Linked DNA regions of Homo sapiens: region 2 is linked to region 1. The links come from fine-mapping of genetic effects on gene expression. Tissue or cell type: spinal cord. Region 1 holds a variant in brackets; the other region holds the start of a gene. All regions are shown on one strand. Distances are from middle to middle.

Region 1 (5,398 bases):
ACTTCGATTTTTACAACCTTGGTTAACTCTTCCTTTCTATGAGATGGTATGATGTAATTTTTACTACTTTTATTATATTGTTTGTCTGCTGTGTGCTGTAGCTATTCATATACTAAAATTGTTACTCCTACCACATACACTGTGATAGTAAAAGCACAACTAACACTTACGTAATGTGTAATTTCCTTAGTATTTTCGATGTTACCATAATTTTTTGCAATACTAATTAGTATTTTATGATAAAGTACGCTTAAAGAAATGTGGAGAATCCTAGTCTAGAAAAAATAGTTGAGCCTGTAAAAGCTGATATGCCACATGCCACTCCAAGTGGAATGGAGATAGTATGCTGCATTTCCCAAACATGTTTGGCCAGGAATCACTTTTGGTTATACTCATAGAATTACTAGTATTCTGTGAAACACATTAGGTGAATATAAATATTGTGATTTGTAACGCATGCAATGCTTTACGAATAAATATCATTTCATTTTCACAAAACATTTGAAGTAAGTAGATCAATAATTGTTAGTATTCTCATTCTATAGATGACAAGGTTGATGTAAAAAATGTGGCACAAGATTCATTGGAAATTCAAAATAAAATGTCCTCAACTTCGACTAAATCCTGTGTTGTCTTCATTACACTAAACACATGCTTAAAGCTCTACTTCTCTTGTATTTCTTTCAGTACCTTGCACAGTACCTTGAACTTTGTAAATACTTCAAAAATAAAACTTGCTTCAAATTTCATCTAATTTAATAGTAAGTTAAAATTAAAGCAAAAACAGTAAGTATGACTATGTCCCTAATAGTTTGTCAACACATTGATATAACAAAATGGTTTGTTTAATCAGTTCAAGATCCAATGGCATTTCTAAAAGCTTTTCAAAACTGTAATTAAGTTTTGTTTTTTAACTAAACTGCAAGCCTAGAATTTAGTGAAAAATCAGGCAGAAATCATGAATTGGAAAATATGTCCTGACATAGCTTTAGGTAAGAAATGGAATGATTAATATAGACCGACCATAATGAATACAAATGGAGTTCTGCCTGTTCTATTAAGTGAACCACGGGAATCAGTCAATACCATTTATCTTGAGGACAAGTAAAGACTGAGTCAAAATACACTAAAAAGAGGGTATATTAATGTGGATTTCTAATTAACCGAATCCACCACACTCTGGTCACCAATGATAAAAAGTTGCAAATATGCTTTATATATGCACAACCATACAGATAACTAATGTCAACTCAATTTGCAAAGCTATAAATTTTAAAGAACTGTCTTTAAATTGTATTAATTTTGAAAGAAATTTTGCTGTGCCAGGAATATAAGACACTAACAACCATCTCAAGGCTCTAATGACTCTATATTATTTATTAGTCTTCCACATTAATGTTATTATTATAAATGTCCTATACCTACTTACCTAGAGTTAAATTAATATTTTAAAATAAATATTAATGAATTAAACTATGTATTAAATGCCTAATTATTTAGCACATACAAAAACCCTCATTCTCAATCAATTACATTTCAGATTTAAAGAAATGCTTTTACTTTGTGAATTGTCTCATAAATAAATTTAGTTCTTTCTTTTAGGTTTAATAGGGTTTCTAAACATGCCTGGTTTAACAGATTATCAGTATTTGTTACACATTGTGTGTAATAGCATTAATTTAGAAAATTTAATGTACAGACACATTTTTCTTCTTCACAAATAGTAAACCATCTATCCATGTCAGATGTAGAAAAAATTGTTTAAAGCAAAATATGGTAGCTTCTTCTGTGTCTATCAGGTTATTCTGTTAAATGCCAGAAGGACTCAGAAGTTCAGGATCAAACAGAAAGCTAATATAAATCTATTTGGAAAACTTGAGAATGAAAAAAAATATATGTATATATCTATAAATGTATTTCTTTGCCTATTTCCCAGGCTTGAGTTTTCCTAAGTATCAGAAGGAAATGTAAATTTTTTATAACCAAAATTAAGAAATATATGGTGTTAATTAAAAAGAATAGAAAATAAAATAATGCAGCTAAAGATTTATAGGTTGAATGGGACATGCCTGTAAAAGGAATCTGTATAGGTGGTATCTATGTAGGTCAACCTACAACAGAAAGCGTGAATGCTGATGGCAGAATGAAGTCTAATCAGGGTAAGGAGAGAAAATTCTAGATATCCCTGATGGCTCATCTCCTCCACCCTTTCAGTGACTTAGCAAGAAACTGGATCAGCTCACCTGAACTAGCGCAATAAATAGGACCAGAGGCTGAGCTCAGGAGCTTTCTCCTTTTAACTCGGCCACTTCCTAAACCAAGAAGCACCAATCATCACAGGGTTACTAGATGTTTATTTTCTTCCTTTCTCCACTCCTAAAAATGTGTAGATCATTATAGGGCTGGTATCTCCTTCCCGGAACCCTTTCTGTGCTGAATCCAGTCCAGCTCAATCTGCTTTAACACGTCTCTATGGATTATTGAGCAACTGGGCTCATTTGACTCGTCCTAGTTCTCAGTGTATACATTATCTTCAAACAAACTCTATCACATATATACACTTCGGGGTATTAGGGTGTGAATG[T/C]CCATATCATCCTTATAATCCAGGACAAACTTTGTATATCTGAATGCAGTGGCAAGATTTTCACTTTTCATATTTGAATGAAAGATTCAAAACCATGTAAACATGTAAATCCCTTCATTGTTTTGTTGCTTTGTTTCTTTTTTTGAAAGTCTGTCTCCAGATTAAGTTTAACTGATCAATATATAGTATCTTAATCCATGTGTTTTAGGAAACAGTCTTTCTGATACTTTAAATAGCTGTGTTCAGATGATCACGTTTGTTATATAACATTCTCTGCTCAATTATCTTCTATTTTGCTTTCTTCCTGCCTTCCTCACCTAAATAAGCCAGCAGCTTTGTTTCTCATACCAAATGCTAGGTGTCATCTTTTTATTCCTTCCTTATCTATTCCAATAGCAGAGTCTGGTTAGTTCTACCCCAAATGTCTTTTCAATACTTGCACTTGGTATCTCTCCATTATGAATACTGTATTCCAAGCTACTGTCACTTTCTGCCTAACTGCCACCCTATCTTGTCTCTCTGCTTCTGCTCTCCTACCAGTCAAACCAGATCTCTTCCACAGGGGAGTGGGAGTGATCATTTAATCAGATCATACCACTCTTCTGCTAGGAGCATATCCAAACTCAGAGCCCTCATAGAGTTGGGGCACTTTCTACCTCTTTCACTTCCTCCTGTATCACCTCTGACTTCCCTCACTATCCTGCAGCCCCATTTGCCTGCAATGCCCTTTCCCTCGATATCTTCATGCTTTGCCTCTTTGCTCATGCCTCAACCAAGCTGCCATATGATCAGACAAGCCACCCACACTACTGATTCACACACAGGCATATGCTCATATCTGCTACCCTCCAACCCTGCCTTTTATTGTAATCAATAGTATTTATGATAACCTGACATAATACGTATTTGTTTCTTGCTTCACTGAATGTAAATGGTATTATAAATGGCATGAAACAGGGATTTTGACTTCCTAGGTGGTTACTCTACCCTCAGTACTTAGCACGTTGCAGGTTCTGCAGAAATCCTGATTAATGGAAATGTTGACACAAATCCCATGATTATTTTATGGTGAAATCACAAATTTCCCTACCTATTTTTTTCATACAGAAGTCGCTTTGCTTTTTTCTCATTAGTTGTATTTATCTTCTAAATGAAATGAAAATATATTGCAGAAACAGGAGTAAGTTTCCTGTAATTTGGGTGTGGGAATCCCTCTGTAGAACTTAGTGCCTGAAAACCTTGCTTCACAGGGGAAGGAATAATGAATCTCATGTTTAAATTATGTAGCACAAGTAGATATAGTATCAACTTAAAAAATTTCACAAATTCTTTGAAAATCCAACTATTCAAAGAAAATCCATATTCAAGCACAGACTTTAATTTGGAGTTACCCTTCTATTGGATCTCTATATAGCTTTGAAACTGATTAAAGCTGGCTTTGATTTCCACATTTAGAAATTAATCACACATGGCTGGATCACGGCCATGGGGGCTGCTATTCTAGAGCAACCTCTCTCTGTGAGACTTGGAAAAATATGAGGAGAGCCACCCACCTATCACACCATCAAACACTTATATAGACACACAACTGAGAGAGGGGTTGCTTCATGTGTTCTTTTCTCTAAAAAAAATCCTCTGGACATTTCTCTCTTAGCTTCAACGACTCTGTTGGTTTTTAAGTAGATAGAGAGATGGTTTGACAAATTAAAAGGTAGCTAGCTTACTAAACATAGCATGGTGAACACTTAATTCCAATCATAAAATAACATTTTACTATGTTCAAATTGTGAAAAACAGACAATAGTAAATGAAGATATCACTACTGATGGTGAAAGAAACAGAAAGTAACATGATTGCTGTTGACTTCTCCAGCTGCATCTTCCCTCACTGGCATGTATCCACACCGTGTTTCAGGAATACCAAGATATTTATTATTTCCTAAATAGTCAAGGCTACCTCTCATCCCTTAGATCTAATTGGTCATGCCCCTCTGCCCAGCAGAATTTTAACACCTATCCTTTCTCATGCTAACTTCTATTTAGATTTCAGATTAGATCTCAAAGTTAAACTCCTTCAGATGTGGACTCAGCTCAAATACCATGGATACCAGAGATATCATTGACTTAATTATTCTTATGCTCATTAAAGCCTTCCTTGGGTTGTTGTGATAGATTATTGTGATGGGGATATCAGATATCCTCAAAATTATAAATACCTATGGTATTAATAGTAATATTTTTGCAGAAAATTTACTTTTGAATATCTATGTATTTCTAATTTGTAAAACCACTTTTCTGTTATAAACAATGAACATCTCTTTATGCAACAGAGTTTATTCATCAATCTTTGTGTCTTTTTCTGATTGTTTCTATTAATTAAACTCTTAGAAGCTGAAATTGCTAGATAAATGCTGTTAACATTTAACACATATTGGCAAGTTGCCATTCTGAAGAGTAACACCAATTCATACTCTTACCAATAGTCCTCAGGGTACCCTTTTCCTCACATACTGTGAACTCTAGGTATTATCAATCTTTTTAACTTTGTAAAACTGAGAGTCAAATAAACTTGTTGTTTTGTGGTTCTACTATACCAAGAAAAGATATAATAGACATGAAAATGTTGGCATCTTTATGAGTCTGGAATTAAAGGAACTTTCCCTTTCTGCTTTCTAATTTGATTTAAGGAATATATTGCACTTTAATAACAAATGCACTAAAATGATTTGCATTTGAAAATCTCTTTAATATTTTAACTCTGAAAAGACAGACTTGCACAATGGTTAAGATTGTGAGGTGAGGACTCAAGTGGGTC
Region 2 (5,398 bases), 680 kb after region 1:
TATAATCTCACAAAACGTAGAATAACATTATGTAGAGTTCATCTGTAATTTTAGAACAGTCATAACTCTCACTTAATATGTTGTAAAAAAGTTATTTACTCCATTTTATTAATCATCTTATGATGAGATGCTTAAAAACAACTTTGAGTAACTACTATTGATATTCAATACAGGCAGCATAGTACACATTCACACACACACATTTTCCTTTTAAAGTTTGGTTATGATATATTACCCTCCTAGCATAGTAAGTCAGGAAAAAGCTGCAACTGTCTTAAAGCTGAAAGTTAAAAGGCTTTTAAAAGCTCTGAGTTTAAATTGTTCAGTTATTCAGTATTAGCAAAATAAAAAGCTCCCAGTAAAAATAATACATTTTCATTTATTTAACAATTAAATGTATTTTTGGGTACTATTTAAGCCTATTCATAAAAATAAAATGCAATATTTGTTAAACAGGAAGGATAAATATTTTCCACCTATAATTTAACACAAATAGGAATATCAATTGGTACTAGATTATAAGCAAAATGTTCTCTATTGATGTAATGATCACATGATAATTTCTGACATAATTACTTTTAAAACAGCAATAATTTGCTAGAAGATGAACAGGATAATATCTTACTTTAAATGAGACATCTGTAATCACTCTTTCCCTTTGGAAGTAGGAAGAAATTTACAACAGAGTCTGCTAGTAGGTCATTTTATTACCCAAGCCCTTAGATTTTATATTTTTACATGAAAACATGGCTCACTTTTAAAGACAGCCATCACTCTATGAATCCTCCTATCATGGCAAGACTGATTTGATGTTCATCACAATGCATTTTAAGAGGCAAGAGTGACATATATCCTTATTAATCTCATAATGATAAAGGATTGATTTCAACCTATATCCCAGACTGTTACATGAAATAGGCTCTGCCAAAATATCAGGTTCAAAAGATGCTCAATTTAAGGAGATCAGTTTTATGCTCCATCCTCAAAGGACAGAGTTATATGAGGTGTAAGTACGTCACATGAGGCATTAAGAGAAATTTTCTTCCCCATAAACTAAACACTGTTTGTACTGTAGTAAGAACTTAATACATATCATTCCGTGTGTGGAAGAAATGACTCACACTCCCTCCCCCTCCCCCCAACAATAATGCAGCTTTCTCTTTTTTGTAGGAATTATCTAAAATGATCACATCACTAAGCAGATCAGTGAGAGGAGTGAGTTTGAGTAGAAAATAAAAAAGCATTCGTGGCTTAAAAACTTCCCCCTACTGCTTGGAAATGGCACACCACAGTAGAAGTTAAGAACACAGCAAGCAGAGATTAACTGAACAACACAGAAAATCAAAAACATTTTTTTAATGGGGAAGGGGATTAACAATGCCAGGGCTAATCTTGGAAACTGGTCTCTGAAGTAAGAGTTATTAAGAGAAAAATATGTTATGTTCTAGAATTCGATTTTCAACTTAATTGAAAACCTCTTTTTACTTCAGTAGTTTTCATAGAAGGTGGAGAGACAGTTTCTAAATATTGTTGCTGAATAACTCGATGTATCAGTTAAATTAGTTAAAGGGAAGCCCCTGTTTTGCATGTGGCTATCCACTCAACCACTCCAAAACAATTCGTCAATCACCTGTTCATGGTTTGGGCAAAGTAACCATCTGCCTTTCAATTCTGAAGAGACATTCTGCTAGAATCATGGAATTATTTATAATAAAAACTTACTCGGTTGAATTCTCCTGTTGACATAATAATAAAAATATATAAGATGATATTTTAAATTGTCTAGGATAATTTAATGATGAGGCGCTGCCACTGAATGATGAGGTTCAGTATTTCTTGACAGCTGTGTGTCTGGATATTATTTTATAACCTTACAACTGCTCAGGTATACAGTGAAGATCAAGCAAACTAATACCTGCTTGGCATGGTTGCATTTTTCCTGTTTTGGTCATGTATAGTGTAATTTAAAACTGTAAACACATTTTCAGAATCTACTCTATTTGAATTTTTCCCCCTCAGTATGTAAGGTAATTTTCTAGCTGAGCAGTTTGTGAATGAGCTTCAAAATACTCGATGAGAAATTGAGAATCATGAAATGGTCGCAGAATCAGCCAGAAGTATGTCAGTTCCCTCTCCAGAGAGTACAGAGAAATGTGTATAAGAGATATCAGGTACTCTGAAGTACAGAGGTTCTAAATACACTGTGGTCCCGATGTAGCAAAAAACAAATAATGATGTTAAAAACATAAGAAAATACTTATAAAATGCTGAAGGTCTTTTTTGAAAAATGATTTGCCATTATGTCCTATATCACACATATTTCCTCCTTGTTAAATGTATCACCAAATGATCAATAACCTTAAAATAATTTGGAAATGCATATTATATAACCCACAGCAGATCTGGTAATCTATCTCTTTCATTTGTCCCAGATTAGTTTTGTGGTAGGAAACTCAAATGGCTGTACCATGAGAGGCAGGCCATTAAAACATTTAAATGGTTTTACAGTGGTATTTTTCAAATGAAGAATGAAGTTCATAAATTTCAGCGTCAGTGGAGAAATGAGTGAGGGGGGTCGGCATCTCTGGAAGCTCTTTGAAAATAAAGCATTCATTATTTTGTTGTAAAAATCAGATATCTATAAAGCCATTTATAAAATAACTAGTTGGACATCTAGCACACCTACTTATTTTCATTTGAAAATTTAGCCATGCTAAGATGCATTTGAGGTTAAAACATTTCTTTCCTTCCTCTTTTCACGTAACCTCTCACGGTCTGAGGACCAGAGACTTGTTTAGAACTTACCGAAGTTTCCCAAAGCAAAACCACGCACAAGCTCCTAATTCAGCTGCCAGATCTGTGTGCAGCTTCGTTCAGCTTCTCACTACGCTAGGCATCACTTTATTAATCATGTATGAATTTCTGTGCATGCACCCTGAAGCGATCACACACACGCGGTGCAATCCCAATCAAAAACGGAAGCCTTACCTGATGGCAGAAAAGGCAGCTGCAGGAGCAGCAGCACCGACGGCCGCAGCAGGGTGCCAACAGCTCAGCCTTGCGCGGAAGGTGAGACCCTTCTCTTCTGTTTCCCCTTTCCAAATCACTGTGCCAACACACTGCTTTGCATTTTGTCCGTTTTCATTCAAAGAAGGTTCTCCAGGCCGGGCAGCCAGTAGACACCACTTTCTTCCTGGAAGAGGCTGCCTCTCTTCTCAGAAAAGCCTGGACCCCTCTCTGTGGCTCCCTCCACATTTACCCTTCAGATCAATAATGCTCTCGGAGCGGCTGGAGCTCAACTGCAGCGGCGAGCGGCGAGCCAATGGGGGCCCAGGATTCCCTCCTGTCATCTCCCCGCCCTCAAAACAAAACACAGCGTGCCTTTGACACATCATTGAGTAGTGAAAAGTAATTGAATCCTATATTTGAAATGTATTTTGTTTGTTCTTTTTCCCCCCTAGCGTTCATTGTAGAATGCTTTGAATGAATCCGAGGACTCCTTAGCTCTCAGAAGACTCATTAAACGAGCCTAGCAGCGGGTGAAGATTAGGCGCTGAGAAAGTGATAGCACCTGGGTTAGCACCCGAAGCTTTGCTTTTTAAATGCTTGAGATCTATTGCATATCAGAGAACTGTCACCTGGGAGGAAAAAATCTTGGGTTCTATTAGTCTTTCCTCCACTAAGTCGCTTGAGTCTTTTTTGTGAATCAAGACAATTAATTACGTTTACCTGGAAGCTGTCTCAATGTTTAATTGTCTAAACGAGAATCAGATGCTTATTGGTGACAATAACCATGCTCAAGCAATTTCTCCTAATTCACTTACTTGTTTCTAGGCTGATTTAACTTGGTTCAGAGTCTATGAAGAACTCAAGATTGCTAAGACTATATACATTAGTCTGGTCTGTTTTAATTTTGTCATGTTTAAATATTGTAAGATTTTAAAAATTAATGTTAATTTCTCTTTATATGAGAGAATTTATTAATAATTACCTAAAACTTTATAGAATATTATAATGGCAATAAAATATTACAATGAAAAGTGTTATTGTTGAAAACCTATTCCTCCAAAAGCCACAAAACAACTTTGCATTCTTTAACCATGATTATCTTTCTTTGTGTTTCACTATTAAAGTGCTAACTATTGAATAAACATTTGCTTAAATATATTCACCAAGAATCGTGTATTTTCTAAGACTCTAAGTCATTTTATTATTCAGACATCAAGAATGCCACAATATTTCAGATAATCATTTAATTTTGTTCTATAAAAAATCTCAAGAGTACAGAGTCTCAATACAGTTTTAAAAATATGTCTCCCTACAGGAGGACTGTACACAAATAACAATGTCTTTTCAATGCTAGTGTTGAAAAAGAATAAAATTATTGGGACTGTCTGAAATCTTTTTGTTTCACTGAATACAAATGTGTTGATGTAGGTGGTGTAGCCAAGCTTTGTGTATCGTGACAAATTGAAATGGCTTGGGGAGACTTTACAAACAAAACAATTTCGTGACCTGTCTATCACGTGAAGGGAGGCACGGAAAAATGTAATATTTACACACTGTATGCTGTGTCACTATAACAAGGTGAATGCTAACTTTATTGTAACTCATTTATGTAGCCAATAAATATTTCATTCAGGGCAGTCTCTGGCTAAGTTTGGTCACTTGGATTTTGTGAAGAAAAGAATATGCTGATGAAAAAATGAATCATAAACATTGCTTTTCCCTCAATTGTATAGTATATTTTTCATTTATTTAAATTCCTTTTTTGATCACAAATAATAGGTCATTGACTACAGAACATTGTCTTTGTACTACAGGTCGAGAGTTCTCAATGTGTGGTCCCCAGACCAATAGCAAAAACATCACCTGGAACTTGTTGAAAAGACAAGTTCTCAAGCCCTTCCCCAAGCCTATCAAATCAGAAACTTTAAGAGAATGGGACACTGCGATCTATGTTTTAATATCCCTCCAGATGCTTCCAATGCACATTCAGGTTGGACAGTCATTGCTCTAGCTAAGGGGTCTACAAATTACAACAGAAGACCAGCCACCTGCTTTTGTAAATAAAGACTTATTGAAACCCAGTGGTGCCGATTTCTTTATGTATTGTCCATGACCGCTTTCGCATTACAATGGCAGAGTCAAGTAGTAGCCACAGAGACTTACAATATGAATCCTAAAATGTTTACTATCTGTCATTTAAAAAATAAATGTTTTGACCCCTCCTAGCGCATTGTAAGATGTGCAATATTATTAGTACAAACGGCAAAAGTTGAAGAAAAAAGAGCATCTGAAGGTGGAGTGGAGAAGATCAAATTAATGAAATCATTGAGATTTGAAAGAGATTGAAAATGATCATGTAATAAATTACATTGGTGTGTGTGTTTTGCAG

Which allele goes with the higher level. Alleles are on the strand shown, and positions count from the first base shown. SD is a standard deviation of normalised expression in the study named.
In carriers of allele C in region 1, the expression in spinal cord of the gene that starts at base 3,275 in region 2 tends to be lower than with T alone (large effect, 0.87 SD a copy in GTEx).

Evidence for each region. PIP is the estimated chance that this variant, and not a neighbour inherited with it, causes the effect. A credible set is the group of variants that fine-mapping cannot tell apart.
Region 2: CDH12 starts here. The variant in region 1 is the best candidate, but not a certain one, in a credible set for the expression of CDH12 in spinal cord (GTEx, PIP 0.74).

The regions. Positions count from the first base shown.
Region 1 is chr5:22,173,584-22,178,981 of GRCh38, forward strand. The region is part of intron 4 of CDH12 (cadherin 12); the gene reads right to left. Among named protein-coding and RNA genes, the nearest start is that of SNORA105A, 290 kb to the left of the region's middle. The variant T/C (reference allele first, on the strand shown) is at 2,585.
Region 2 is chr5:22,850,070-22,855,467 of GRCh38, forward strand. CDH12 (cadherin 12) reads right to left here and starts at 3,275. Exons shown (of 15, transcript NM_004061.5): 1 at 2,989-3,275.